Homo sapiens: one gene and its partners. The protein of the gene in region 4 purifies or fractionates together with the protein of the main gene of each other region. This does not show direct contact. Each region holds a gene or a part of one and is shown on either strand. Other genes may lie near its edges. The genes, in order: MTO1, DDX11, DHX40 and IARS2.

Region 1 (7,146 bases), on a different chromosome or scaffold from region 4:
ATCAGTTTCTAAAGTCCCCTTAAGTCACTGGTGGTTTCTTTAACCAGAAGCTGCAAGCAACAATCCACTGGGCCAGATCAAATATCTCTACTATTGGCCTACCAAAGGAGGAGAACTCATTCTTTATTCAACCTTTCTGCAGCAATCAGTGTCCAAATCACAGAGAAAATGACTGTTTAGTTGAGTCTTGATGTGGAACTTGGATTTTATCTAGTAGGAAACCCCAGGAAATTTATTTGTGGGTATATATTTTATCTAGTTGACTTTACCACTTCTTTTTTTTTTTTTTTTCTGAGACAGCATCTCACTCTGCCACCCAAGCTGGAGTGCAGCAGTGCAATGTCAGCTCATTGCAGCAATTCGTACCTCAGCCTCCCAAGTAGCTGGGATTACAGGCACACGCCACCACCCTGGCTAATTTTTGTATTTTTAGTAGAGATGAGGTTTCACCATGCTGTCCAGGCTGGTCTTGAACTCCTGGCTTCAAGTGATATGCCCACACTGGCTTCCCAAAATGCTGGGATTACATCTTACTCTGTATGCCTCATGTTTATCTCTAGTCAGCCTTGGGTATGAGAACATCTGGTAGAGCCTACCTCAGTCATAAGCCCAGAAAGTGATCTCCCTGTGACTTTGGAGCCTTGACCTATCTATAACCTGTCCACAGCCTTCTAGACAGAGAAACTAAAATTCCCACCTTGCCTGCATACAGCTGCCTGGGCCAGAGAATCATACCCCAGAAGCTGATCCTTTTGCAAGCCCCTCTGTGAAGCCCACCTGTGGCCCAGGAGGTCTACACAGAGCTGCTTCTTCCTCTGTAAACCCCCCACTTTGCACTGCACATGCTTTCTAAAGGCTTTCTGTACTTGAGATATGAACGCCTTCCCACTTTAATTTTTGGATACTTTCCCTCATCCCTAAGGTATCATCTAGAGTTTCCTTATGTCTTATTGTTATTTTTTTTGGATAGAAAAGTGTTCATGATTATTAAGTAAAGAATAGATTACAAAACAATGCACACACTATGATCTAATTTTTATTAAAAAATATTTAACCGAAGTTGCAGAAAGCGAAAAAAAAAATTTAAAGAAAAAAATATCAAAAATAGGCTGGGAGCAGGGCTCACACCTGTAATCCCAGCACTTTGGGAGGCTTTAGGCCAGGAGTTCAAGACCAACCTGGGCAACATAGTGAGACACTCCCTCCCTCAACCCCATGTCTACAAACAAACAAACAAAAAACAACAACAAAGAAACCAAATTAGCCAGGCCTAGTGTCCACCCACATCTGTGGTCCCAGCTATTTGGGAGATGGAGGTGGGAGGATCACTTGAGCCCAGGAGGCGGAGGTTGCAGTGAGCCATGATAGCGCCACTGCACTCCAGCCTGGGCAACAGAAGGAGATCCTATTAAAAAAAAATAAAGAAAAGAAATAATGTTTACTGTTTTTTGTTTTAAGGGTTTTTGTTTTGTTTTTTTGAGACAGGGTCTCAGTCACCCAGGCTTGAGTGCAATGGCACCATCTGGGCTCACTGCAACCTGTGCCTCCTGGGTTCAAGCAATTCTCCTGCCTCAGCCTCCTGAGTAGCTGGGACTGCAGGCACGCAGCACCATGCCAGGTTAATTTTTCTATTTTTAGTAGAGATAGAGTTTCGCCATATTGGCCAGGCTGGTCTCAAACTCCTGGTGGACTCAAGTGATCCGCCACCTTGGCCTCCCAAAGTGTTGGGATTACAGGTGTGAGCCACCACTCCCGGCCTATGTATTTAATACTTTTTATAATTAGAACAATAAAACTGCCACACTGTAGGGAGACCCCTGAAACTATTGCTACGGAATAAAAGATGAAATGCTCCTGATTATTGTAAATACAAAGTTGCATGCAGGATTGTGTAAAGAGAATGCCAGGTTGGACTGCCAGAATGAGCCAACAGCGGGTGATGTGCTTCCCCCTGCAGAGAGCCTATGAACGGACGTGCATCACCAAGATTCCTATCCCAGAAAAGCAGATGTTCATAGCTCTGGGAATGGAATGCAACCCTTGTGGAAAGCCTCTAAACGGACGCATGAGGGGCGCCTGTCCCTGTGGGTAAGATAGGGCTATAAATGCCCTCATCTTGCCACGGCTCTTCTAGGCCTTTTTAGGGTTAAGGCATACTCCCTTCTGAGAATTTCTGGTCTAACTGATTGTCTAGCTTCACATCCTGTTTCTATGGATTGTTTGTAACCAGCTTTTGCTGCAACTGTTACTGCTGATTAATATCTTGCTAATCATAGGTTATGGAAAGACTGTTTCTGTTTTAAGGCTCTGTTAGAAATTACTGATGCACACAATATATTGTAAATTCTTATCTCTGTATACTGTACTTCTGCATACAGATGTTATGTTAAAGAATTACTTCATCCCCATGTGACCATCTCACCTCATAATCAAATGACCCTAAATCCCTCACTAACCTACCCCTGCCCTCACTAAACTTAATAATAAATGCTGGTATATCCAGTGTATTAGCAGCATTGCAGGACCAGAAGGCAGTGACCCCCCTGGACCCAGCTTTCAATATCTTCTGTGTGTCTATTATTTCTCGACCTGCCAATCCGCCTGGGAACAAAGAAAGAGCCCCATTGCATTGTGGGCTGCTGGCCAGATCCTGCAATACCACACTTGTTTTATTCTCCAGTCAAACGTTGCCTTTCTGAGAAAGGCTGTGAATTGAGAAAGGCTGTGAATTCCAAAAGGCTGGACATTTAACCTCCAACCAACCGATTCTTCTAATTAACCAATTAGCCATCATGAATCTCTCTCTCTCTTTTTTTTTTTTTTGAGACAGAGTCTCACTCTTGTCGCCAGGCTGGAGTGCAGTGGCACGATCTCGGCTCACTGCAACCTCTGCCTACGGGTTCAAGCAATTCTCCTGCCTCAGCCGCCCAAGTAGCTGGGACTACAGGTGCATGCCACCACACCTGGCTAATTTTTTTTTTTGTATTTTAGTACAGACGGGGTTTCACCATGTTGCCCAGATTGGTCTCGAACTCCTGAGCTCAGGCAATCTGCCCCCTTCGGCCTTCCAAAGTGCTAGGATTACAGGCGTGATCCACCATGCCCAGGCACCATCATGAATCTTTCAGTCCACAAATATATTTGAACTCCTTTCGAATCTATTCTTTTTCTTTTCTTTTTCTTTTTTTTTTTTTGAGACGGAGTCTTGCTCTGTCGCCCAGGCTGGAGTGCAGTGGCACAATCTTGGTTCACTGCAACCTCGGCCTCCCAGGTTCAAGCGATTCTCCTGCCTCAGTCTCCTGAGTAGCTGGGATTACAGGTGCATGCCACCACTCCCGGCTAATTTTTTTTTTTTTTTTTTTTTTTTTTTTTTTTAGTAGCGATGGGGTTTCACCATGTTGACCAGGATGGTCTCCATCTCCTGACCTTGTGATCCACCTGCTTCGGCCTCCCAGAGTGCTGGGAATACAGGCGTGAGCCACCGCGCCCGGCCCGAATCTATTCTTATTTTCAGCCCTTAGTTTTTATAGACAAACAGAAGGTGACGGTGTATCAGATTGTCAGATCACAAAGATCTGATAAGGCAAAGTGATCAAATTCATTGATCGTAGGTGGCCACCTGGCGATAAGGACTGCAGGGCCTAAGAAAGTACAAAAGATGACCTTTAGTAGGAGCTCCCAACCCAGAACCACAGGAAATCAAAAAAAGCCCGCACGGGCGGATCACGAGGTCAGGAAATCGAGAACATCCTGGCTAATACGGTGAAACCCAGTCTCTACTAAAAATACAAAAAATTAGCCGGGCGTAGTGGCGGGCGCCTGTAGCCCCAGCTACTCGGAGGCTAAGGCAGGAGAATGGCGCGAACCCGGGAGGGGGAGCTTGCAGTGAGCCGAAATCGCGCCACTGCATTCCAGCCTGGGCAACAGAGCGAGACTCTGTCTCAAAATAAATAAATAAATAAATAAATAAATAAATAAATAAATAAATAAATAAATAAATAAATAAAAATAAAAAATAATAATAATAAAAAAAGCCCGCACGAACTAGGAAAGAAAATACACAACCGGCCCTCCGTGCGATCACCCATCTCCCTCACCAGGAAAGTAGCTCCAAACCGCCAATCAGCGGCGACGCTGGACGTAGACGTCCTACCCCGTGATATTAAAGCAAGATGGCCGCGCCCTGCAGATTGTCTCTTGTTGCGTAAGTTTTTTTGACCGTCACTCGTGTCAGCTTCAAAGTCAGATAGATTTTTCTCCCAGCATGTTCTACTTCCGAGGCTGTGGCCGTTGGGTCGCGGTTTCCTTCACCAAGCAGCAATTTCCGTTGGCACGGTTGAGCAGTGACAGCGCGGCGCCCCGGACTCCGCACTTCGACGTGATAGTCATTGGTGGAGGACATGCCGGGACTGAGGCAGCCACCGCCGCCGCTCGGTGCGGCTCTCGGACTCTGCTCCTCACTCACCGCGTGGACACGATCGGTGAGGAGCGCGGGTGCTGTGGAACTTGGCGTAGGACGCAGGCTGCTTCCTTCCCGCCTCCCCCGGTCTGAAGCGGGGGACCTCTTCCTTTCCTCAAAGCTAGTGAGAATCCTACCTTCTGTGGTTTTAGCCTCGATCAGTGTCTCGCAAGGATCAGGCGGGCCAGGCCAGAACTCTATATTAGTCTATTCTGCGAACCATAGATTATGCTGCTGCTGACAGTCGTCCGTTGTAGGAGGTTGGGGTTCGGGGTCAGTGCCTTGGGAAAGGGAGCTACCAACTACTCGCTGGTAGCTTCTTAGTTCATTGCTGCGTTTACCTTCTACTATGTTACTCCAGATAAAGGGTGAATTAACATTATTAACAATGGTTTATGGCCAGGTGCAGTGGCTCACTTCTTTAATCCCAGCACTTTGGGATGCCAAGGCAGGTGGATCACCTGAGGTCAGGAGTTTGAGACCAGCTTGGCCAACACGGCGAAACCCCGTCTCTACTAAAAATACAAAAATTAGCCGGGCATGGTGGCGGGCGCCTATAATCCCAGCTACTCGGGAGTCTGAGGCAGGAGAATCGCTTGAACCCGGGGGCAGAGGTTGCAGTGAGCCGAGATTGCGCCACTTCACTCCAGCCTGGGCAAAAGAGCAAAACTCCGTCTCAAAATAATGATAATATTAATAAAATAAAAAAATCCTTTATTAAACGGTTCTTGTGTTTTTATTTAAAAACATTTTTTTAGAGACAGGGTCTCGCCATGTTGCCCAGGCTGGAGTGCAGTGACTACTCATAGGCACGATCGTTGCACATTACAGGCTCCGCTTTCTGGACTCAAGAACTTTTCCTGCCTCTGCCTAACCAGTAGCTGGGATTGCAGGTGCTCAGTACTCTGCCCAGCCTGATCTTTGTGTTTCTGTCAAGATTTTGTGATGCCTTTTGGAAGAACCATGCTACCTTTTTTTTTTTTTTTTCTTTTGAGACAGAGTCTTGCACTGTCACACAGGCTCAAGTGCAGTGGCGCCATCTCGGCTCACTGCAAGCTCCGCCTTCCGGGTTAATGCCATTCTCCTGCCTCAGCCTCCCGAGTAGCTGGGATTACAGGCACCCACCACCACGCCCGGCTAATTTTTTTTTTCTTTGTATTTTTAGTAGAGTCGGGGTTTCACCATGTTAGCCAGGATGGTCTCGATCTCCTGACCTTGTGATCCGCCCGCCTCGGCCTCCCAAAATGCTGGGATTACAGGCATGAGCCACCGTGCCCAGCGCCATGCTACCTTTTGCATCCTATATTCCTTCTGGGTTGTCGTCCCTGGATTTTGTGTTTAGTACTGGACAGTACTTTTTTTGCTCTAATGGGTAATGGTTGGATGGCCGTTCTGTAGCATCATGATAGATACTAGCTAAAACATCAACTTGTAAATTATGTATACTTTTGTCTTTCCTCCTTCCTTTTGCTTAGGAGCGAGCAGTAATTAGAATATTTACTTGTTTTGTAAAAGTTGTGAATAAATCACTTATTTATTCCTGAAATTCTTCTTTAAAATAACCATTCAGCTCATAACTGTGAAGAAATATATACTATTAACTGCGGTTTTGTGGGTGGGGGAGAGGAGGCTATATGATTTCCTAAAAGATTATACTTTTCTCATCATACATTCAGGTGGGTTTTTTCTTTTCTTTTCTTTCATTTTTGAGACAGAGTTTTGCTGTTGTTGACCAGGCTAGAATGCAGTGGCGCGATCTTGGCTCACTGCAACCTCCACCTCCCGGGTTCAAGCGATTTCCTGCCTCAGCCTCCCAAGTGGCTGGGATTAGAGGAGTCTGCCACCACGCCCAGCTAATTTTTTGTATTTTTAGTAGAGATGGGGTTTCATCATGTTGGCCAGGCTGGTCTCCAACTCCTGACTTCAGGTGATCCACCCGTGTCAGCCTCCCAAAGTGCTGGGATTACAGGTGTGAGCCACCACACCTGGCCTGTTGTTTATATTTTTAAAAAATAAAGACCTAGTGCTTGCTTTGGCAACAACATAAACTAAAGTTGGAATGATATAGGGATTAGCATAGCCCCTGCACAAGGATGATGCACAAATTTGTGAAGTGTTCCATATTTTTAAAAAATAATAATAAAATAAAGACCTAGGCCAGGGGTGATTACTCACGCTTGTAATCCCAGCATTTGGGGAGCCCAGGAGTCTTCTATTTCAAAGGAAGAAGGAGGAAAATAATCTACCACAGCTGTCATTCCTGTTTTTACAGTAGAGAGACTAAGGTATGTTAGGTAACTTGCCATGATCACAGAGCTCATAAGTGGTAGGTCTAGAAATTGAGCCAGATATCTCTTTCACACACACTCCTCATAATGACACTTCATGCTCATAATCACAGTGCTATCCAGTCTCCCTGTGGAGACCATTAAAACTTGTGGAGGTCTTGTCTGGGCATGGTGGCTCATGCCTGTAATCCCAGCAGTTTGGGAGGCAAAGGCGGGCAAATCACCTGATGTCGGAAGTTCGAGACCAGCCTGACCAACATGGAGGAACCCTGTCTCTATTAAAAATAGAAAATTAAACACCCAAGAATGATCAATAAATACTAAAAAAAAAAAAAAAAAGAAAGAAAATTAGCCAGGCGTGGTGGCGTATGCCTGTAATCCCAGCTACTTGGGAGGCTG
Region 2 (7,025 bases), on a different chromosome or scaffold from region 4:
CACCAGTGCGCTCCTCGATTCCCTAAAGAGGCTTCCAGAGAAAACAGCAGCACATATCAATAAAAAACTCAGCAGAAACCAACAGCACACTTTTATTTAAGGACCTATAGCTGTGCAGGATGCAAACATCTGGGCATCAGTGACTTTCCTCCTGCCCCCGTTTGTCCCTGATGGTGGCAGAAGATCCCAGCTGACCACAGCCCCTTTCTCTGGGGTCAGAGGGAGAAGACAGGCGCAGTCAGCAGGGGCAGCTGTTGCAGGTGGGAGGGATATTTTCCCACAGGAACAAAGGTCTCCGTGATGACACGGGGTCTCTATAGTCATGTTGAGAGCCTAACGGCCCTTGGCATAATTGCTGGTGTTGGGGTAGAAGGTGTCTTGGAGTTTGCTCAAGTGGTTGAGAGGGAGGGAGGTGCCATAGACTTGGAGGAACTGGCACGAAGCCAAGGATACAAATCCAGGCAGGGCTGTGGGACAGGATAGGGAGCAGGGCCTTCTACTGAAGGAGTGACTCAGGAAGGAGGAGGGGAAGGTGACAAGCCCCTGGGCAGGAGCCCTGTGGCCATGGATCATTTTAAATTGAGACCAGAGAGTGAGCAGTCCAGGGCAGCTATAACCTTGGCTAGAAAGGGCAGAGGCAGATGGGCCTGCTCCATCTCGCCTCTTAAGAAGGTGGGCAGGACGGAGATGCCACAGTGGATGCCACAGCTGCCACAGCCTCCTGCGGAGACCAGGAAGGAAGCCTGGCTCTCAGCCATGCAGGATGGAAAGAAAGATTCTATTCCAGGAGGGGAGCTGCCCTGGAACGCCCCAAGGACAGCCAGGACCCACTGTTCATTCAGGATTCCCCCATTTTCTCCTACGGGAGCTAACGCCTGTGCCTGGGTCCTGGCAGCACTCTGGACTCCACACTCTCCTCCTGGGTTTCACCTTTGTAACAGGATCCCCGCAGACCACGCCCACGACAAACACTGTCTCCAGCGGGCAGGACAAAGGAAGGGCACGGCGCCAGGCAGTGGTGTGGTTGCCCATCAGGAAGAGGCCGACTTCTCCCGGTGAAACTGGGCAGACAGAAGGCAGTGAGAAATGTGATCTCGGGGTGGGGAGGCTCTCAGAAAGAAAAAGGTAGGACTGACCTTCTGCACAGCAGCAATGGCGGGGCCAAAGGTAGCTTTGACCTCCACACGGGCTCGGATCCAGGCCGGCAGCTTGGCCAGGACAGGGGGCCGGGCATATCGCTGGTCCAGGAGCACTACGCTGGCAAAATCCTTCTGGTGCCTGATGGCCCTGCCTGCATAGGAACAGAGGCTGGGGCTCCGAGCAACACCTGCCTCCCCCCTACAGCACATTCCCACGGCGACCCCCTCCCCTTCCTCAGACTTATATAGGAAACAGGGCAGGCAACCCCTCTTTCCTGTTCTCCCTTTCTCCAGCCCCCATCTGTCCACCCAGCTGGAGGCAGCCAGGCTCACCTATGGACTGGTTGACGGCCTTCATGCACAGGTTCTCCACCAGAGCCTTCCCTGGGGGTGCCTGGCCGGGGGCTCTGGGCTGGGAGTGAAGGGGAAGACCCATCAGGACTGTTCCCTGCCTGCAGCTCCCCCTGGGAAAAGACCCTGCCAGGCTTTGGAGCCAGACCAGGAGGCTTCGTGGCCAATGCCAGCAGCAGGGGTCCAGGTGACATCACAGGGAAGATCAAGAGGGTGTGGAGGGGCATCCAAGCTTCCGGAGGGGGCAGGAGACGCCAGCGCAGCGGGGAAGGCCTGGCTGTATCAGCCCTGGGGGTGATGCCACTCCCACCCACTGCCTACTCTCCTGTCACCCTCTGTGACACTGGGGTCACTCACGAGGGTTTGATCCAAGTAGGCCATCTTCTCCTGCAGCTCTGCAGACCTGATGTTGGGGAAGGGCATGCCCACCATCACCACACACCTGGGCGGGGGAGACAAGAGCCCAGCAGGTGGACGTCAGGACCTCCCGGGTCATCACCCACGTCACCAGCTGCTCCGTTCTACCCCTTCCCTCAGCCTCTCCGACTGTGATCAAAACTCAGCCTCTCTCCACTCTGTACCTACCACCTGGAGAGGGCTTGTTCGGCTGAGAGATCCCGTCTAGGCCAATTGACTGGGTCCTGATACAGCAATGGGTAGCCTAAAATCCAACTGCTCTCCCAGGACCAAACCCAGAGCTGCTGAGCCCCTCCCTCCAGCTGGCTGGTCTGAGCAGTCGCAGCCCAGCTGTGGGCTCTAATGGCAGCAGAGAGCAGGCAGGGGCCCAGCTGCTGGGAGTGAGGGCCGGCCATGTATCACGGCCCAGGAGACGAGCAGAACCACTACTTACCGGCCTAGGTTGTCAGAGAAGTTGATCCCTTCACTCATCTTTCCTCCAACCACAGAGAGGAGCAGGGCCCCTGTCACCTGGCCTCTCTCCTGGCCACAGGCCTGTAGGAGAAACCCAGACGCTGAGTTGCTGAGCCAAAACTTGGATGACACCCACAACGTTTCCAGCTGCCACCCCCACACGATCTCAGACCCAAGCCCAGCATGACGCCCGCACCTGGATGCACCTGGAATATGCCAGCAGCACCTGCTCCACCTGGTGTGCGCTCTTAGGTTCCTGGAATATCTGAGAAAGACAGAGGACATTTCCCAGAGACAGGTTCAGGGTGCCAGGTCTCGAGTCTGCTCGTGGCCTTGTGTTTTCTGGCCAGGGGACTGGAGAACCTCACAGCCAGGGACTTTGGGGGAAATCCTCTGTAGTCAGGGACTGGGAGCGGTGGGGATGAGGAGCCAGAAGCCTGTCCTGACCCGATGAGCACGAGAGCTCCCAGGAGGACTCAGTGGCACTGTCCTCACAAGTGGGAAGGCTGCCGACAGGCCACTCACCTTCTTCCTGGCAGCCAGACGGCCCAGCAGGCCACCCTTCTCCCAGTGGGCATGGACCTGGCGCAGGTACTCGTAGGAGGGGAAGAAACAGACCACCCCTCCAGGAACCACACCGCACAGGTTACAGAGAATGCGACCCACCTCGTCCATCTAAGGAAGGAAAGGAGGGAGGGAGGGAGCCCCCATGGAGCAACCCCTCAGCCACCCACAAACCGCGTCTTCACCTTGAGACTCAAAACTGAGGAGAGACCCTCGGCAGGACTACAGCCAAGGAAGAGGACTTGGCTCCCCTGGGTGGGAACCACGGGGTGGTAGGTGCCACCTCCCACCAAACACACCCAGCCGCTGCTGCTGACTGCGCCTTTCTGACACATGTCACAGCACTAGCGTCCCTAGGGGGCCTCCCTATTGCCCTGGCACTGAGTCCTCCCTTCTTCTGTCCAGGGTCCTGATGGGCACCACAACGACAATCAGGGGCTGCACACCCCAGGCACACCACAGGAGATGCCCCCAAGCCCCACATCCCTACCCCCGGCAGGGGCAGATATAACCAAAGGGCAAGAGAGCCAAAGGGAACTAGCAGCTTTCTCCTGTGTGAGGCGTCCTCAGAGGATGCCTGGAGGTTTTATGAATACATATTTCGCAGCCTAAGGCGTGAGGGGCGGGGAAGCTCAGACCTTCCTCCATAAGCATCTAGATCGACGCCGCTCATTCTGTGTGGCTCTAAGCGGGTGTCCCTGTGCAATTTCCCCAACACTGAAAACACTCAGGGTGGGCCAGAGCGCCCCTGCCCCAGAAAACCCTTTGCTGCCTGAGGCCAGGCTGTGGTGCGGCGAGCTGGCTGGGACTGACCATCTGAGGCAGCTCTCTTTTCTGGAACGTGAATTCCAGCGGCTGGTTGGAGATCCCGCTGCAGATGACGAGGGGCAGGATGTTGTCTGGAGGGATCACGTGACCTGGTAAGAGCCAGGGAGGGGCCGAAAACTGGAGATGCAGGTGTGCTGCAAGACACTGCAGAGAGGGCATTTCCCTGCCCCATCATCCAGCACAGGAACAGCGACTGACAGCGCTCACCCGCCCACCATCACCAGTCACACTGGGCAGCAGGCAGCAGGGAGCAAAGCAGGAGAGCCTGGGCGAGCGCACGAAGGGTGAGGCTCCCACCCCGGGGTCTCCTCCGCCCCTGTGCCTGGTCGCAGTATGAGGTATTACCCACAGAAAACGGGGGCCAGAACCTGACCTCTAGCCTGCCCCACCCTGGGCACAGCTTCTCACCACAGGAAAACTCCACCACGCGCTCAGCTTCCACCCCGGCACAGGCCAGCAGCTGCTGCCGGAAGTCAGACACCTGTAGACCAAGGCCACAGCGTCACGGCCCCATGACCCCTCAGAGGCCCAGCAGAAAGGAAGCGAGAAGTCTGGGCTAAGAGACAGCAAGTACACACAAACTGAAAGAAGAGGTCAAAGAAAAGGCTGATGGCAAACTAACAAAAAGAAAAATGGTGACTGATACCCAGTGCTGGCAGTCTCGTTTAAACTATGTGCAGGAACAGCAAAGGAAATCCAGCAAATCTGGCACAGTCATTATCAACCCTGGCCATGCAGCAAAATCACCAGCGAAAATTTTCAAAAATACACATGGCCAGGCCCCAGCCCAAACTACTGAATAAGAATCTCCAGGCTTTCACCTGTTAGACTGGCAAAAATCCAAAAGTAACCACTCTGGAGAAACAGGCATTCCTAGACAGTACTGGTGGGATACAGAATGGTACAATTCTCATGAAATTTCACAGTAGTTAACAAATTAAACATATTTATACTTTTTAACCCAGGAATCCCATATTTAGGAGTCCAGTGAGAAGATACAGCCCACAAATACCAAACAGCATGTGCCCCCGGACCTTTCCCTGTAATCATGCGCCTGCCTATCCAGAGGGTACTGGTTGGATAAGCTCCCTACATCTGTCCAACAGAGAACCACGCAGCCCACTAGAGGAGCGATGGTCAGACAACTGACTAAGATGCCTTCTGTGTAAATAAAACAGGAAAGGGAAAAATGAAGACACGTTTTTGCTTATTTAGGGGAAAAAGAAAGACTGAAAGGATAAGCTAGTAAAACGGATTCCCTATGGGGGTGGGGAATGGGCTGGAAAGGGATGAGAGTGAGGCTTTCCTGAATAGATCTTTTTATATTGCTTTGACTTTTGAGCCATACAAATATTTACATATTTAAAAACTACAAGTCAGAAAAGAAAAAAGCAAATTCTAAAATTGAAAAGAAAATGAAACAAAAACAGCCTAGTTATCTATGAAACTGACAACAGAAGCACACGGAGAGAAGCCTGGTTCCACGTGACTTTAGAGCCTAGTGACCAGGCATCCTTAGTGGGTTACACTCTAAAGGCAAAGAGGAAAGGCAATTTCAATCAGATCTATTGTTAGAAGTAATATTGGTACTATGATTTCAAAACTTTTAAGTATATTATAGGATAGAGCAGATAAGTATGTTAATGTAGCACACATGTTCAGGCTTAAGAGAAAAAGAGGTACAATAAAAGGTCAAGTAAACAAATCCTTTGATTTTTACTTAGAAACACCAATATGGGCCAGGCGTGGTGGCTCATGCCTGTAATCCCAGCTCTTTGGGATGCCAAGGCTGGCGGATCACCTGATTTCAAGACCAGCCTGGCCAACATGGTAAAACCCCATCTCTACTAAAATACAAAAATTAGCTGGGTGTGGTGGCACATGCCTGTAATCACAGCTACTCAGGAGGTTGAGGCATGAGAATCGCTTGAACCCCGGAGGCAGAGGTTGCAGAGAGCCGTGATCAGGTCACTGCGCTCCAGCCTGGGAGACAGAGCGAGACTGTGTCTCAAAAAAAAAAAAAAAAAAAAAGAAAGAAAGAAAGAAATACCAGTATGGATTCATTCTGAAAACATTTCCTAGATCTGTCTACCAAAACGCCCCAGGAGCACGACAAACACCCTAGCACCCACAGCTTGACTTCTAAATGTCATTCCCCATTACAAGAAACCAGAGCAGCTTGGAGAAATGAATCAATCCAGTGTGGGGAAAGGACACCCATGGTGATCCCATGACATTCTGCTGTGCTGGAGGCGAGACTGACCGGGCCACGGGGAGGACCTGAGCTAGCAGGAAGGGGCTCTCACAATGTGAACGTCAGAAACAATAATTACTGTAAACAACTTTTAATATGCCGAATGAATAAAACTATGAATCTATCCATACAAAAATATAAAAATCAAAAGCTAAGGCAGCTGGGGCTGGGAAGCACTGCTTCAGGATTCCCAGCAGCTTTTTGTCCAGGAGGCCCTTCGCTAGGTAGGAGTCACCACTGTGCAGAAATGCGGTTATATTTATCACAGTCATGCTCAAAACAGAAAACTGCAAATAGCTTGCACACCTAACAAGAGAGAAGCAGCTACATGAAATGCTATATATCTGTGTAACTGGAATCCAGCACAGCTGGGATACTGAAATACGTGCATGCTTGCTGACAAGGAGACAGGGTTTATGACCCTCTGGCTGCTGAGTGAAAAGAGCAAGTTCCAGTGACAGCACATGGAGGGAGCCGTACTTTTGTTTTTAAAACAGCTATGCACATAAGTAAAAATTACGCCTACAAAGACTATTATATTCATATACATCAAAATGAACCTTTTAAAAGTGGAATCATGATTTTTTTCCTTGAGTTTGAAACCACAGAACAGCTTTCTCTGGGAGACATGTGATCCTGGGGCTACAGAATGGAGCAGCAGAGGAGTCTCCACTGCTCCTGCAGCCTAAAAGGCACAGCAGTGAGAGAATAGCAGTGTCACCCAGCGGACACCACTGGGCCTGCTCGAGCTGACCCTTTCTGGCTTGGGGCCCCAGGAGAGAACAGGACTGATAATGCATCTCTCCCAAGCCCCCATCTCATCCCAACACCTGGGGCACGAGGGGCTGGGAAAGGTGTCCTTACCGGCTGCATGGTACCCCCCGCAATGACCACTGCCCGGCATTCCTTCACCACTTGGGCAAAGTGCACAGCTGGATTCAGGAGCAAAAACTTCAGGGTGCTCTGACTGAGGCTGCCTGGAAAAACAGATCGGTGGGAGGTGAGTGCAAGCCCAACAG
Region 3 (7,025 bases), on a different chromosome or scaffold from region 4:
TATTAAGTGCATAATAATCCGCTACTATCACTACTTATTTTGATGCTTAAAGTGTCTCATATTTGATTACTTGGGGCCTCTTCATGCTGGCTCCTATGTTCTTCTGACGTGGCCTCAACCTTTGTTAATCACTTCTTTACTTGCTGGCAAAATAAGATATTCTGGGCTCATCTTGCATTTTCCCAGCCCCATTTCTCCAAAGACCCCTGACTCCTTTAAGTGGCAGATGGATGTCCCAAGTCAAGATCTGGGCACTATGTCTATTCATTGTTATTATCTCAGAGCTAGGGCATATATACATATAAATATTTACATACATACAAATACATTCTATATACACACACTAACATCTATTTTTATTCCAGTGTCCATCCATGCATCCATCTATAATGAAACCCATAACTTCATCATGATACACTGAAATTTCAATCCAACAGCACAGAGATCATTCCTATTTTCTCACTTTCGCTATTTCTAACTCCCTTCACCATTATCACTCACAGAGTTATGTGTTCAATTCCTCTGTATTTAATGAATCTCCATCACCATCACTGTTACCCCTTTCTCTATAAAGATGCCTTCCTCACTACACTCTGACTGATGCCCCAAACCAAATAACCCCTCCCCACCTTGCTCAAGCCCTAGCACTCCATGCCAAGCTACCCTTCCTCAGGGATGCTATGCTCAACCTACTTGGCTTTCACACTATACACAGGGCCACCTCTCTGAAAGAAAACTCTTGTTACTTGCCTTAAGTGAAGATAACCCATGCTGGACAGCCACCCTACAAACATACCCCTCCTACCCTACTTGAGCTCTAATACCACATTCTGAGCCACTGCAGCTCTCCCTCGTCACTGTAGCTCTCCCTCGTCACTGTAATTCATGTCATAATCATCACAGAGCTTAAATCAAATCTTCAATGTTTAATATTAAATAGTCCAATATTATAGTCAAATACAGTATTATATCTTGATCCATCTCTCAAGTCTTTATTGCTTACCTTCGAGCTACATTTTTGAAATAGCCCGCACAAAGACATCTTCGTAGTACTTCATGTTTAGGGCCTTCAAAGGTCTCTTTTGGGAAATCACTTTGCTATAAAAAGAATATGTAGAGAGTGGTAAATCTCATAGTACAATTTGAAATAATCTTTTATTTTGAAAAATCCACATTTCTAAAGACCTCTGTTTCTGGCCAACATAGATTAAGAGAGACCAGATTTACCCTTCCACCTGAAACCAAAAAAATGGAAAAAATACATGAAATAATGATTTCCAAAACACTGTAATATCAGGCAATAAAGGACAGAGACAGGAAATAAACGCAGTACGCCCAACAACTGCCCCAACTTCAGCCTTGATAAAGACTGCAGACCAAGGTACAGGGAAGTAAAGCCCAAATGGAACTCAGAGAACTCCCTGGGTTAGGGAGAGAAAGCTGGGAGTCCAGGAAGACCAAGGTGGCTAGAATTCACAGGACAAGAGTTCAGGAGAGAAGAGAAGTGCACAAAGACACAACTCCAGAGAGATGCAGAAGGTCCTCCTCAAGTGTTGAGCTGAGTAGTGATTAGCACATGAATGTGAGGAAACTACCAGCCCAAGAAAAGAACCTCTTAAAAGGATAAGTAAGGGCATGGTGTTTTCACAGGGCTAGTAATGGCGCCTGTTCCTATAAGCCACATGAGAATACTACACTACAGTAATTCATGTGATGTTAGGAAGAGTACTCAGATGGGCCTTGCCTCAGTAGAGGGGAATAACTAGCCCTGCACTGAGCACTGCTCTGATCCCACCTAACAAATCATGCAAGCAAGACCCAACAAGAAAGACCAAAGACCATTTCCAAGTAACTAGAACACAAAAATATCCAGCACCCAACAAGGTGAAATTCACAATGTTTGGCATCCGCTGAAAAATTATCAGGTATGATGTAAAGAAGCAAAAAAACACAATCCATAATGAGGACATCTATCAAAATCAACCTAGAACTGACACAGATCTAATTATATTTTATTATAATTTTCTGTATAGCTGGATTACATATGTTCAAAAAGTAGAGACCTGAAAAATAAAATGTAAAAATTTAAAGACTGAAATCCAACATCTAGAGATGAAAATACAACACCTGAGATGACAAATATACTAGATGGGATTAATGGCAGATTAGACTAGACACTGCAGGAGAAAAGATTAATGAACTTTAAGATAAGGCAAACAGAAAACACTCATAACGAAACAGAGAAATTATAACAGTGGTTTCCAGAGGCTGGAGAAAGAAGATAATGGGTAGGTTTTTTTGTTTTTGTTTTGAGTCAGGGTCTTACTCTGTCACCCAGGCTGCAGTGAAGTTGTGTGATCACAGCTCACTGTAGCCTGGATCTCCTAGGCTCAAGCAATCCTCTACCTCACCCTGCTGAGTAACTGACACTACAGGTGTGTGCCACAACGCCTGGCTAATTTTTTTTTTTTTTTTTTAGTAGAGACAAGGTCTCACTGTGTTGCCCAGGCTGGTCTCAAACTTGCTGGGCTCAAGTGATCCCCACACTACGGCTTCCCAAAGTGCTAGGATTATAGGCGTGAGCTACCATGCACTGTCGGGAATGGGGAGTTATTGTTGAATGGTTATGGAGTTTTATTATAGTATGGGATGATAAAAAAAAGTTCTGGAGATGGAGAAGTGGTAAGGGCTGCACAACATTGTAAATGTTTTAAGTGTGCAGTGACCTGTACGCATAAAAACAGTAAAAAAAAAAAAAAAAAAAAATTTTTTTGAGACAGGGTGCTGCTGCTCTGTTGCCCAGGCTAGAGTGTAGTGGCATCATACCTCACTGCAACCTCAAACTCCTGGACTCAAGTAATCCTTCTGCCTCAGCCTCCTGAGTAGCTAGCACTACAGGTGTGTGCCAACACAACAAGCTAATTATTTTAATTTTTTTGTAGAGACAGGGTCTCACTGTTTCTCAGGCTGGTCTTGAACTCCTGGCCTCAAGTGGTCCTCCCACTTCGTCCTCCCAAAGCATTGGGATTACAGGGGTTAATCATCAATGCCCAGTAGAGGTAAATTTTATATTAATTATTTTACCAAAATAAGATATATAAATTGAAAAACTAATAATCATGAGGAGTAAAAGATGCCAGACCAAAAAAAAAAGAGCATATACTGTTTGATTCCATTTATGTAAAATGCTAGGAAATGCAAACTTATATACAGTAAGTCTTCAATGTCAATGATAAGTTCTTAAAAACTGCAAAGTTAAGCAAAATTTTTAAGATTTTTTTTTTTCTCTCATCAGTGTTAAAACAATGGTGAATAAAACAATATTTTTCTAGGGCCTGCTGTATATCATTTTGCTTAAACTCACAGTTTCCAAGAACCTACTGATGACATTAAGTGAGGACTTACTGTATCATGACAGAAAGCAGATTAGTGGTTACCTGGGTTGGTGGGGCAGGAGGGCCTAGTAGGTGAGACAATGGATTATGAAAGGGAATGAGGACAGGTGCAGTGGCTCATGCCTGTAATTCCAGCACTTTGGAAGGCCGAGGCAGGTGGATCACTTGAGGTCAGGAGTTTGAGACCAGCCTGGCCAACACGGCAAAACCCCATCTCTACTAAAACTACAAAAATTAGCCGGGTGTGGTGACGCAAGCCTGTAATCCCAGCTACTTGGGAGGCTGAGGCAGAAGAATTGCTTAAACCTGGGAGGTGGAGATTGCAGTGAGCCGAGATCACGCCACTGCACTTCAGCCTGGGTGACAGAGTGAGACTCCATCTCAAAAAAAAAAAAAGGTGGGGGGGAGGATGAGAAAACTGGGAGATGATGGATATGTACCATTATCTTGATAGTTGTTTTACGCAAATGTCAAAACTCATCAAAGTGTATACATTAAATATGTGTAGGTTATCACACGTCAATTATATATCAGGAAAGCAATTTTTAAATATCTTCATTTCTGTGAAGACAATTCTTTTATCACTACTAGGAATGTTTCATGGGGTCAAGGAGGTCATAGAAACAAATAGAATGGAAGGGTGGTAGAATAGAAAGGGTGCTAATGTACATCAATGAAACTTCAATATGAAATATATAGGTCCAAAATGCTACTCAAGAAAAAAAACATTACGGCAATCACCTGTTTAAGCTTCCTGATTAGTTCTCGAAGTTGAGCTTCCACACGAAATGCAGAAAATAAGCACCTCCAATGAATCCAGTGTTTTTGGCACCATGAAGCTGGAGCTCCACTGCAAAACAAAAAACTGGTATCTTTAAAATATCTTCTCTAAGTAAAAGACAATCTAAAATTCTCATTTCTATTACAAAAGTGGAAACCCATAAACAACTGTCAGTTCCTTCAGGAGACCTGTCCAAGTACTAAAAAAGAATTTTAGGAAACTTGAAAAAAACATTTAAATTAATGAATGTGCCCCTGACTAAATTAAAAAATAATTTGTAAATGGATTTCTTTACTTATATATGCAATAACAAATATCCAATCATTTTTTAATCTAGGCTACCTATATAGAAGCAAAATTCTATAAGGTCATTTTCAGTAAAGGTTTGAGGAGAAAAGAAGAGAATCAATGTTATATAATAAATGCCTACTAAGCAATAGTCATCTGACATAGATAATTTCACTGAAATTCAAAATACCTTGAAGTCAATATCATCTTCACTGAACGTTAGTGTCACAAGCCACATCATAAGTACGTATTGGAACTATACATCAAATTGACATTTTTCAGGACAAAGGACTACCTTACATACCTTGATTTGCATTGTTCAAAGATGACAGCTAAAGTTGCAAAGTCATTAAATCCTCCAGCTTTAGCTGCCAATTCTCGATGTCTCTGTTCTGCTTCCTTCTGGTACTCTGGATCAACTAAAAGAATTGGAGAGGCAATTCAGTTATACTTTGCATTAAGTGCCTACAATCACTTTGCTTTCAGAAACTCATTAAAATCTGCCTCATCCTCTGGGGTGAAGTAAGGTAGAACTATATTAACTCTTCTTAACTTCTCTTAGGAAGCTCTATTTCTCCCACAATTCCTTTTTTTCTTTTCATATCACTTTGGAGATTTTACCTGAATAGCAACATTACTTCTCCCAATCTATTTGCCTTTTAAAAATAGTATTTGTAATTTACTTTTTAAATTAGTTTTGTTATAAGAGTAATCCATGCTTACAGAAAAAAAAATGTAATGGTATAAAAGAATATCATGTAAAAGTTCAATGTTCCCCAGTCACACTACCCATAAACCAATCCTCAAGACAAAGTACTGTTCATTATTTAGTGTGTGTCCTTCCAGGTAATTTCTATGTATATATAAGCATATGTACATAGTGTTTCATTTTTCTATAAATGGAATATATAATCTGAAAATTTGTTTATTTAATAACAACTCCATATCAGTACATATAGAATTATTCTTTCTCAAAAATAGCAATATAGGGCCAGGTGTGGTAGCTCACACCTGTAATCCCAGCAATTTCAAAGGCCAAGGCAAGTGGATCAATTGAGCCCAGGAGGTCAAGACAAGCCTAGGCAACAAAGCAAGATCCTGTCTCTACAAAATATACAAAAATTAGCCAGGCATGGTGATGCATGCCTGTAGTCCCAGCTACTCAGGAGGCTGAGGTGGGAAGATCGCTTGAGCCCAGGAGGTTTTTTTTTTTTTTTTTTTGAGACGGAGTCTCGCTCTATCGCCCAGACTGGAGTGTAGTGGCGCGATCTCGGCTCACTGCAAGCTCCGCCTCCCGGGTTCACACCATTCTCCTGCCTCAGCCTCCCGAGTAGCTGGGACTACAGGCGCCCGCCACCGCGCCCGGCTAATTTTTTGTATTTTTAGTAGAGACGGGGTTTCACATGTTAGCCAGGATGGTCTCGATCTCCTGACCTTGTGATCTGCCCGTCTCGGCCTCCCAAAGTGCTGGGATTACAGGCATAAGCCACCGTGCCCGGCCCAAGCCCAGGAGGTTGAGGCTACAGTGAGCCGTGATCGCATCACTGCACTTTGGCCTGGGCAACAGAGTGAAACCTTGTCTAAAGAAAAAAACAATGATATGGTATTCCCCAGGAGTATGGGGAACATAACACAATTTAACCAGTTCTTATTTATCCAATTCCCAATTATGGGCAATTAGACATGATCTCCATATATGCAGAACTGACCTACTACGAACATTTTCTTTTTTAATGTAATATTGAAGTATAATATGCATACAGAAAATTACACAGGACGTAAGTGTGTAGCTCATATAATATTCACAAACACAACATACCAATGTACCCAGATCAACAAACAGTATCACCAGCATCTCAACAGCCCCCTTTTATGCCCTCCTTCGAGTAACTACCCATTCCCTTCCACAAGAATAACTATATCCTGACTTCTAATCCTACAGATGGGTTTTGCCCATTTTTAACCTTTGTATAAATGAATCGTATAGTATGTACTTGATGTGTCTGTTTTCTCTTGCTCAACATTACGTTTTTGAGATTTATCTGTTAATTACTTCGATACCACTTCCCCTGATCCCATTCAGGACTCATGTGCTCTCTGATTGCCCAAATTCCCCATACAGCACTTTATCCAGGGCTAATCTTTCAGAGTGCCATTTTTTCAAAACTGCATAGGGATCCTTTCCTTCAATCTAACACGTCACATCACAATTCCTATTCCCTATACCTATCACAGCTAGATCTAGCAGAGGCACAATGTTGCCTGAATCCAGGGAGCAGCATTTACTATAGAATACGATGTGAATCTGCAAAGCAGCAGTTCCTGTTACTAGGAGGAAAGTAATTTGATTAAAGAAAACACTGATGAAGGTATAAAGTCTTCTATCCCATGCTTTAAGTAGCTTCCAACTATGTTACCTAGGTAGCAACTGAATGAAGCAGCTAGAGACAAAAAAATAAAAAAGAATATGATTTATCTCAGACCATACAAACATACAAATGACCCTGGTAAGGAAAAGATATAAATGATTATTAATCTCCATTTCTTGAACTGCTCCGGGA
Region 4 (7,025 bases):
CAGAGATACTGGCCTGTAGTTTTCTTTTTTGTTGTGTCTTTGCCTGGTTTTGGTATCAGGGTAATGCTGGCTTTGTACAGTGATTTAAGAAGAGTTTCCTCCTCTTCGATGCTCTGGAGTAGTTTGAGCAGAATTGTTGTTCTTTATATATTTGGTAGAATTCAGCAGTAAAGCCATCTGGTCCTAGACTTTTCTTTGTTGGGAGATTTTTTGTTACTTATTCAGTCCGGTTACTCCTTACTGTTCTATTTCTTCCCGGTTTAATCTTGGTAGGTTGTATGTGTCCAGGGGTTTATCCATTTCCTCCAGGTTTTCCTATGTGTTAGTGTACATTTGTTTATAGTAGTCTGTGATGATCCTTTGTATTTCTCTGTTGTCTGTTGTATGTCACCTTTCTCTCTCTTTTTTTTTTTTTTTTTTGAGATGGAGTCTTGCTCTGTTGCCCAGACTGGAGTGCAGTGGCCTGATCTCATCTCACTGCAAACTCCACCTCCCAGGTTCAAGCAGTTCTCTGCCTCATTCCTCCCAAGTAGCTGGGGTTACAGGTGCCCGCCACCATGCCTGGCTAATGTTTGCGTTTTTAGTAGAGATGGGGTTTCACCATCTTGGCCAGGCTGGTCTTGAACTCCTGACCTCGTGATCCACCCGCCTTTGCCTCCCAAAGTTCTGGGATTTTACAGGCGTGAGCCACCGCACCCAGCCCCATGTCTCCTTTTTCATTTCTGATTTTGTTTATTTGGATCTTCTTTTCTATTTTCTTAGTCTAGCTAAAGATTTGTTTTCACTGCATATGCATTTACCTTCTTACATTATCTCAGACTTTCCTGGCTGCACAGACTAGATTAAACTCTTTATTTTCCCCTTGGTAACACCCATCACAGTTATTTCTTTTCTTTTTTTTTTTTGAGACAGATTCTTACTCTGTCGCCCAGGCTAGAGTGCAGTGGCACAATCTCTGCCCACTGTAACCTCCACCTCCCAGGTTCAAGTGATTCTCCTGCTTCAGCCTCCCAAGTAGCTGGGATTACAGGCGCCCACCACCGTGCCCAGATAATTTTCGTGTTTTTAGAGATGGGGTTTCGCCATGTTGGTCAACCTGGTCTCGAACTCCTGACCTCAGGATTTGCCAGCCTCCACCTCTCAAAGGGCTGGGGTTACAGGCACGAGACACTGCACCCGGCCCCATCACAGTTATTTCTTGCTTAACATAAAATCTACCCTACTAGGTGTCAGCTCCAAGAAGGCAGAGTCCAGATTTCCCCAGGGTCTAACACAATGCCTGCTATATAACAAGTGCTCAGTAATATTGGTGCAATTGAATTGGTTTGATTCAGTTATTTAAATTTTGTTTCCCCACCTCCACTCAGTTAATCTTTCTTACATGAAGATTACAACACTAAATTTTCAGTCTTAGGACATAAGGACAAATCATAATTTTACAAATAAAAGGGATTATGGGGGCTTTGAGAGTTGTGAGTTTAGATTTAAAATATAGATGTAATCTTTATCAACGACCTCATGTTACTTTTTTTTGAAAACCCTTTTATTTTGAAAAGTCATAAAGTATCATGAAGAATTACAGCATGCTCTTCATCTAGATTTCCCAACGTTAACATTAACATTTTGCTACAGTTGCTTTATATATCCTATGTATATATATGTAGAGGAAAAGATGCATCTTTTATCTCAATATTTTAGTATATATTTCCCCAAAACATGGATAGTCTCTTAACATAACCAACACAGATATCAAAATTAGGGAATTAACATTGATTCCATACTGTTAACTGTCTATAGAACTTATTCCTAGGTGGAAAGAGGAAAAAAAAAAAAGGACCCAAGATCTAATCTGAGATCACATGTCACATTTAACTGTCATGTCTCTCTAGTTCTTGTTCTGTGTCTTTCATGACATTTCATGACATTGCTTGACATTCATGCAGTACAGGTTTATTTTGTAGATGGTCTCTCTGGGTTTGTGGGATGCATTGTCATGATTAGATCCACGTTATGCATTTTAGGTAGGAATATCACAGAAAGGATACTGTGTTTATTTCAGTACATCATTTCAGAAGTCACGTGATACATCTCTGTCCCATTACTACTGGTGATGTGTAACTTTGGTCACTTTCTTGGTTAAGGTGGCATCTGTCAGTTTTCTCTATTGTAAAGTTACTTCCCTTCCTCCCCACTAATTGTTATTAATAAGTATCTTCTTTTTCTATTTTAATTAACTTAAATTTCTGGGTTTTTTTTTCTTTTAATACTTAATTTTGAGGTCCTGACCAAAGAGCAGATTTGTACTTGGAAGGAAAAGACCAGCTCGGGGGTTGGTTTCAGTCATCCTTATTAACAAGTGTGGCAGCAAGGAAGAGAGCACCTTATAAGTAAGTATTTATGCCTGAACCAACCTGCTGAGTACCTGCCAGTGTGTGAAGCACTATGCTGAGTACTACAGAGATGATAAGGCACCACTCTTGATTGCTTACAGTGTCCTGTAAGAATTTGAAGTAAAAAAAGAGAAAGGAAAAAGGAGACAACACCAAGGTGTCTTGTGAGTGTGATGCAGATCATAACTCTTTGAAGAAAAAGTCAGCATTGACTGGAGTAGTTGGGGGAACTTATGTAGTTCTTTGTTGTTGTTGTTTTTTTTTTTTTTTTTGAAAAAGGATCGCATTCAGTCACCCAGGCTGGAGTGCAATGGTGTGGTCAGAGCTCGCTGCAGCCTCCGTCTCCTTGGCTCAAGCAATCCTCCTGCTTCAGCCTCCTGAGTAGCTGGGATTACAGACATGCACCACCACACCTGGCTAATTTTTAATTTTTTTTTAGAGGTGCGTTCTCCTCCCATTGCCCATGCTGGTCCCAAACTCCTGGCCTGAAGCAGTCCTCCTGCCTTGGCCTCCCAAAGTGGTAGGATTATAGGCGTGAGCCACCATGCCTGGCCTAGAACTAGATCTTGATCTATGGTAAAACTTGACTAGGAGGAATGTAGGGAAGGATATTCAAGGTTGAGAGAAGACAGCCTGAGTGCAGATGTCCTTTATATTTGTAATATCCACAGTGGCTAGTGAACTGAAACATTGCTTTCATGAATTTTATTAAATTAGGTATTCTCATTTAGTACACATAATTACTTTTTCAAACGTGTGGGTGAAAGTACTAATCAGAAAGATTCCTAAATAGCTTAGCTTAAGATTGTGGCTCTCTTAGGATAAAAACCCATCCCAGAACATTTCACATGTTTCTTTTTTTTTTGAGATGGAGTCTTGTTCTATTGCCTAGGCTGGAGTGCAGTGGTGCGATCTTGGCTCACTGCAGCCTCTGTCTCCCGGGTTCAAGCGATTCTCCTGCCTCAGCCTCTCGAGTAGCTGGAATTACGGAGCATGCCACCATGCCCGGCTAATTTTTGTACTTTTAATAGAGACGGGATTTCACCATGTTGGTGAGGCTGGTCTCAAACTCCTGCTCTCAAGGGATTCACCCTCCTGAGCCTCCCAAAGTGCTGGGATTACAGGCGTGAGCCCCCACGCCTGGCCCTTTTACATGTTTTTGTTTCTTAACATGCGTTTTAAAGACCAGTAAAAGGGCAGATCCTATTTTTTTCAAATTGTCTTTTGAAAATAATTTTGAGATGATAATCTGCTCTTTTTAAGACATACTTTTTCCTGGTTTTATTTTTTCATTTAAAATTTTTTTTTTTTTTTTTTTTTAGTGAGTTATATAGTTTTTCCGCTATCACCACAAGAGGTTTTATAACATTTCCAACACACTAAAAAGTTTTCTCATGCCCATTTGTGACTAATCTCCACTCCCACCCCAGGGCCCCTGGCAACCACTGATCTCCTTGCTGTCTCTGTAGTTTGCTCTTTCTAACCTGGTTAGTTTTAATGATAAAATCAGTACATAGCAGAAGCTCAGAAAATAATCTGTTTAGTGATGAAAATATCTAAAGTTTTCCTTTGTGTAAGTCGAGAGTTAACTGTTTGACTATTGTGATACATGAGCTAAGAATGACTTTTTTTGTTTGAGATGGAGTCTTACTCTGTCTCCCAGGCTGGAGTGCAGTGGAACGATCTCAGCTCACTGCAATCTCCGCCTCTTGGGTTCAAGTGATTCTCATGCCTCAGCCTCCCAAGTATCTGGGACTACTGGCACACACCACTATACCCAGCTAATTTTTGTATTTTTAGTGGAGACAGGGTTTCACCATGTTGGCCAGGCTGGCCTCGAGCTCCTGGCCTCAAGTGATCTGCCTGCCTTGGCCTCCCAGAGTGTTGGGATTACAGGCGTGAGCCACTGCACCCAGCCGAATTTGACTTTTAAGGAAAGGTTTCGGCCGGGCAGGGTGGCTCATACCTGTAATTCCAGCACTTTGGGAGGCCGAGTTAGGTGGATCCCCTGAGGTCAGGCGTAGGTAGGAGAATCCCTTGAACCTGGAAGGCAGAGGTTGCAGTGAGCCGACATCATGCCACTGCACTGCAGCCTGGGCAACAAGAGTGAGACTCCATCTCAAAAAAAAAAAAAAAAAAAAGAGAAGAAAAGAAAAGAAAAGGTTTTATTCATAATCAGTCAAGAAAAATCATATTTTTGTGTCAAACTTAGATACTCTTTTTAAGCTGTACCTAATCTTCAAAAAGATAATTATAATTGTGTTTATCATTAAAATAGCTGATTTGTCCCTTTAGGACAGTGATTGTTCATGGATTTACCCTTGGAGAAAAGGGAGAAAAGATGTCCAAGTCTCTTGGGAATGTCATTCATCCTGATGTTGTCGTTAATGGAGGACAAGTAGGTGATTCTCTAAAATGTATTTTATTTTCGTTTTAAGGATCTTAAATTGGCAGCCAAAGCCCTTAATATAGTTACTTCAATGTAAAAATAAAAACTATCTTTTATACTCTCAAATAACACATGATTGTAATGAAGAAGGCAGAGGCTGGGATTGTGGTCCTTTTAACTTATTTCAGGCCTGACTCTCCAGTTAGGTCCCAAACCACGCTGTTTCTTTTTTAATTGTCTGAGAGCCTTTAAAATGTGTAGATCCTTTTGTGATTCGTAAGCGTGATGATTGGGTTTTCGCACTATTGTGTGAGGTGTGCCTCCCTCAAACCTTGTTACAGTGTTGGCACATTGCTGTCTGAAGTGAAAAAAGAATATGTAAAGTGTGATTGTGTAGTTAAATGGAAATGATGAAAAATGAGATTGCAACTTCAAAATGCGCATTTCATTATTATATTGTTGAAAATTATACACTTTAAAGCAGGTCCTAAATGTACATCAAATCTGAGGTTGCTGATAATTTGGGGGGGTTTTTGGAGCTGCTTTTGTGAATTAAATCATTTGTCTGTTTTTTTCTATTTTTTAACTCCTGTAGCTTTTTACTGCCCGCCTAACATCCTGTAACCGTTCATTGTTTTGTGTACAGAGTTGCTAGGAAATAGTGAAAGGAAAAGCAGTCCTTCCTCTTCCCCTCCCTTATTATAGAGACCTCCCTGGCACTGCTGTGTGTCTAACCACCAGCTGTAATAGAGGAAACAGACATGACCAGGGAAGAGATTAGGTATGAGCATTTGTGCATTGAACAAGATTGCAGAGCACGCTCTTTCTTTTTCCAGTTTTGTTTTTAGATACAGTCTAATTTGAGATTGTTAGCCCGCATTTCATTACAGTGCTAGTATAGTTTGTACTTACATTGTGCTCAAAAATATCTGAATAGGAGCTTTACCTAAAACATTTGTTCGGCTAATTGGAATTGAAAGCCATTGTGTTTATATATTTTTTTCTCAATGAAAAGGATCAAAGCAAAGAGCCTCCGTATGGTGCTGATGTCCTTCGCTGGTGGGTAGCTGATTCCAATGTCTTCACCGAAGTTGCAATTGGCCCATCCGTGCTCAATGCTGCCAGAGATGATATTAGCAAGGTTAGAACTATTATTCTTCCTATTTCTAAAGGACAAGTTTGTCAAATCATTGTTTTAAAAAATGAGACACATTTTGTTTGGAACTGAAAAAAACTGAATGAAAACGAGTTCTTCATTTATTGTGAGATTTTAAGAATCTCCTGTGTTGGCCAGGCATGGTGGCTCATGCCTGTAATCCCAGCACTTTTGGAGGCAGAGGCAGGTGGATCACGAGGTCAGGAGTTCGAGACTAGCCTGGCCAACATAGTGAAACCCTGTCTCTACTAAAAATACAAAAATTAGCTGGGCATGGTGGCATGCACCTGTAGTCCCAGCTGTTCGGGAGGCTGAGGCAGGAGAATCACTTGAACGCAGGAGGCGGAGGTTGCAGTGAGCCGAGATCGCGCCACTGGACTCCAGCCTGGCGACAGAGCAAGACCTTGTCTCAAAAAAAACAAAAAACTCCTGTGTAAATTTATTTGTTTCAAAACATTGGTAGTAATACCAGTAATTTTATATAATTTGTATATAATATCCTTTATATTTTATTAATATATAAAATGTAATATAGCATAGTATAGATTATATTAATTTTGTATACTTTTATGTACTCAATAACCTTTCACATTTTTCCATGTATCTTTATTTCATTGTGAAGCAAGTGAAATAACATTATTCTGACCCACACACATGAATAAACTGGGCTACTGAAAGGTGATTTGCCCCAACGTAATAAAGAAATATAATGAAAATTCAGTCGTTAGGCGTAAAATCCAGTGGTTGTTCCTATAACTGGGCTATTGGAATAAGAGTTTGTTGTGTACTTTTTGTTTTTTATTTTTTTACATTTGTAGTCTTATTTGGAATGATAATAAAAATACCCCACTAAGAAAATGACAAGAGTTAGTAATAAAATAACTTTTCAGTGAAAATTGAAGGCACCATTAGATTTTTTTAACTGCATATTTTTTCTTCCTATGAATAGCTTAGGAATACACTTCGCTTTCTTTTGGGAAATGTGGCTGATTTCAACCCAGAAACAGATTCCATCCCTGTAAACGATATGTATGTCATAGACCAGTACATGCTACACTTACTGCAGGATTTGGCAAACAAGGTAAATGTA

Evidence for each region.
Region 1: the proteins of IARS2 (region 4) and MTO1 purify together in Homo sapiens (affinity purification with mass spectrometry; 2 studies listed by BioGRID and IntAct, with this or other methods). This does not show direct contact.
Region 2: the proteins of IARS2 (region 4) and DDX11 purify together in Homo sapiens (affinity purification with mass spectrometry; 2 studies listed by BioGRID and IntAct, with this or other methods). This does not show direct contact.
Region 3: the proteins of IARS2 (region 4) and DHX40 purify together in Homo sapiens (affinity purification with mass spectrometry; 2 studies listed by BioGRID and IntAct, with this or other methods). This does not show direct contact.

Annotation. Positions count from the first base shown.
Region 1 is NC_000006.12:73,457,591-73,464,736, forward strand, and holds the start of MTO1 (5-taurinomethyluridine-[tRNA] synthase subunit MTO1, mitochondrial), read left to right. Parts: upstream 1-4,146; 5' UTR 4,147-4,264; coding exon 4,265-4,481; intron 4,482-7,146. UniProt on the Homo sapiens protein: Component of the GTPBP3-MTO1 complex that catalyzes the 5-taurinomethyluridine (taum(5)U) modification at the 34th wobble position (U34) of mitochondrial tRNAs (mt-tRNAs), which plays a role in mt-tRNA decoding and mitochondrial translation.
Region 2 is NC_000012.12:31,097,843-31,104,867, reverse strand, and holds the end of DDX11 (ATP-dependent DNA helicase DDX11), read right to left. Parts: intron 6,984-7,025; coding exon 6,871-6,983; intron 6,692-6,870; coding exon of another isoform or gene 6,567-6,691; intron 4,309-6,566; coding exon of another isoform or gene 4,273-4,308; exon of another isoform or gene 4,234-4,272; coding exon 4,161-4,233; intron 3,897-4,160; coding exon of another isoform or gene 3,842-3,896; coding exon 3,738-3,841; intron 3,036-3,737; coding exon 2,886-3,035; intron 2,626-2,885; coding exon 2,557-2,625; intron 2,442-2,556; coding exon 2,341-2,441; intron 1,933-2,340; coding exon 1,848-1,932; intron 1,552-1,847; coding exon 1,473-1,551; intron 1,292-1,472; coding exon 1,137-1,291; coding exon of another isoform or gene 1,062-1,136; coding exon 1,032-1,061; coding exon of another isoform or gene 835-1,031; 3' UTR 69-834; downstream 1-68. UniProt on the Homo sapiens protein: DNA-dependent ATPase and ATP-dependent DNA helicase that participates in various functions in genomic stability, including DNA replication, DNA repair and heterochromatin organization as well as in ribosomal RNA synthesis.
Region 3 is NC_000017.11:59,596,595-59,603,619, reverse strand, and holds part of DHX40 (probable ATP-dependent RNA helicase DHX40), read right to left. Parts: intron 4,884-7,025; coding exon 4,769-4,883; intron 4,246-4,768; coding exon 4,137-4,245; intron 1,099-4,136; coding exon 1,004-1,098; intron 1-1,003. UniProt on the Homo sapiens protein: Probable ATP-dependent RNA helicase.
Region 4 is NC_000001.11:220,132,124-220,139,148, forward strand, and holds part of IARS2 (isoleucine--tRNA ligase, mitochondrial precursor), read left to right. Parts: intron 1-2,278; coding exon 2,279-2,387; intron 2,388-4,685; coding exon 4,686-4,788; intron 4,789-5,040; exon of another isoform or gene 5,041-5,143; intron 5,144-5,794; coding exon 5,795-5,920; intron 5,921-6,884; coding exon 6,885-7,016; intron 7,017-7,025.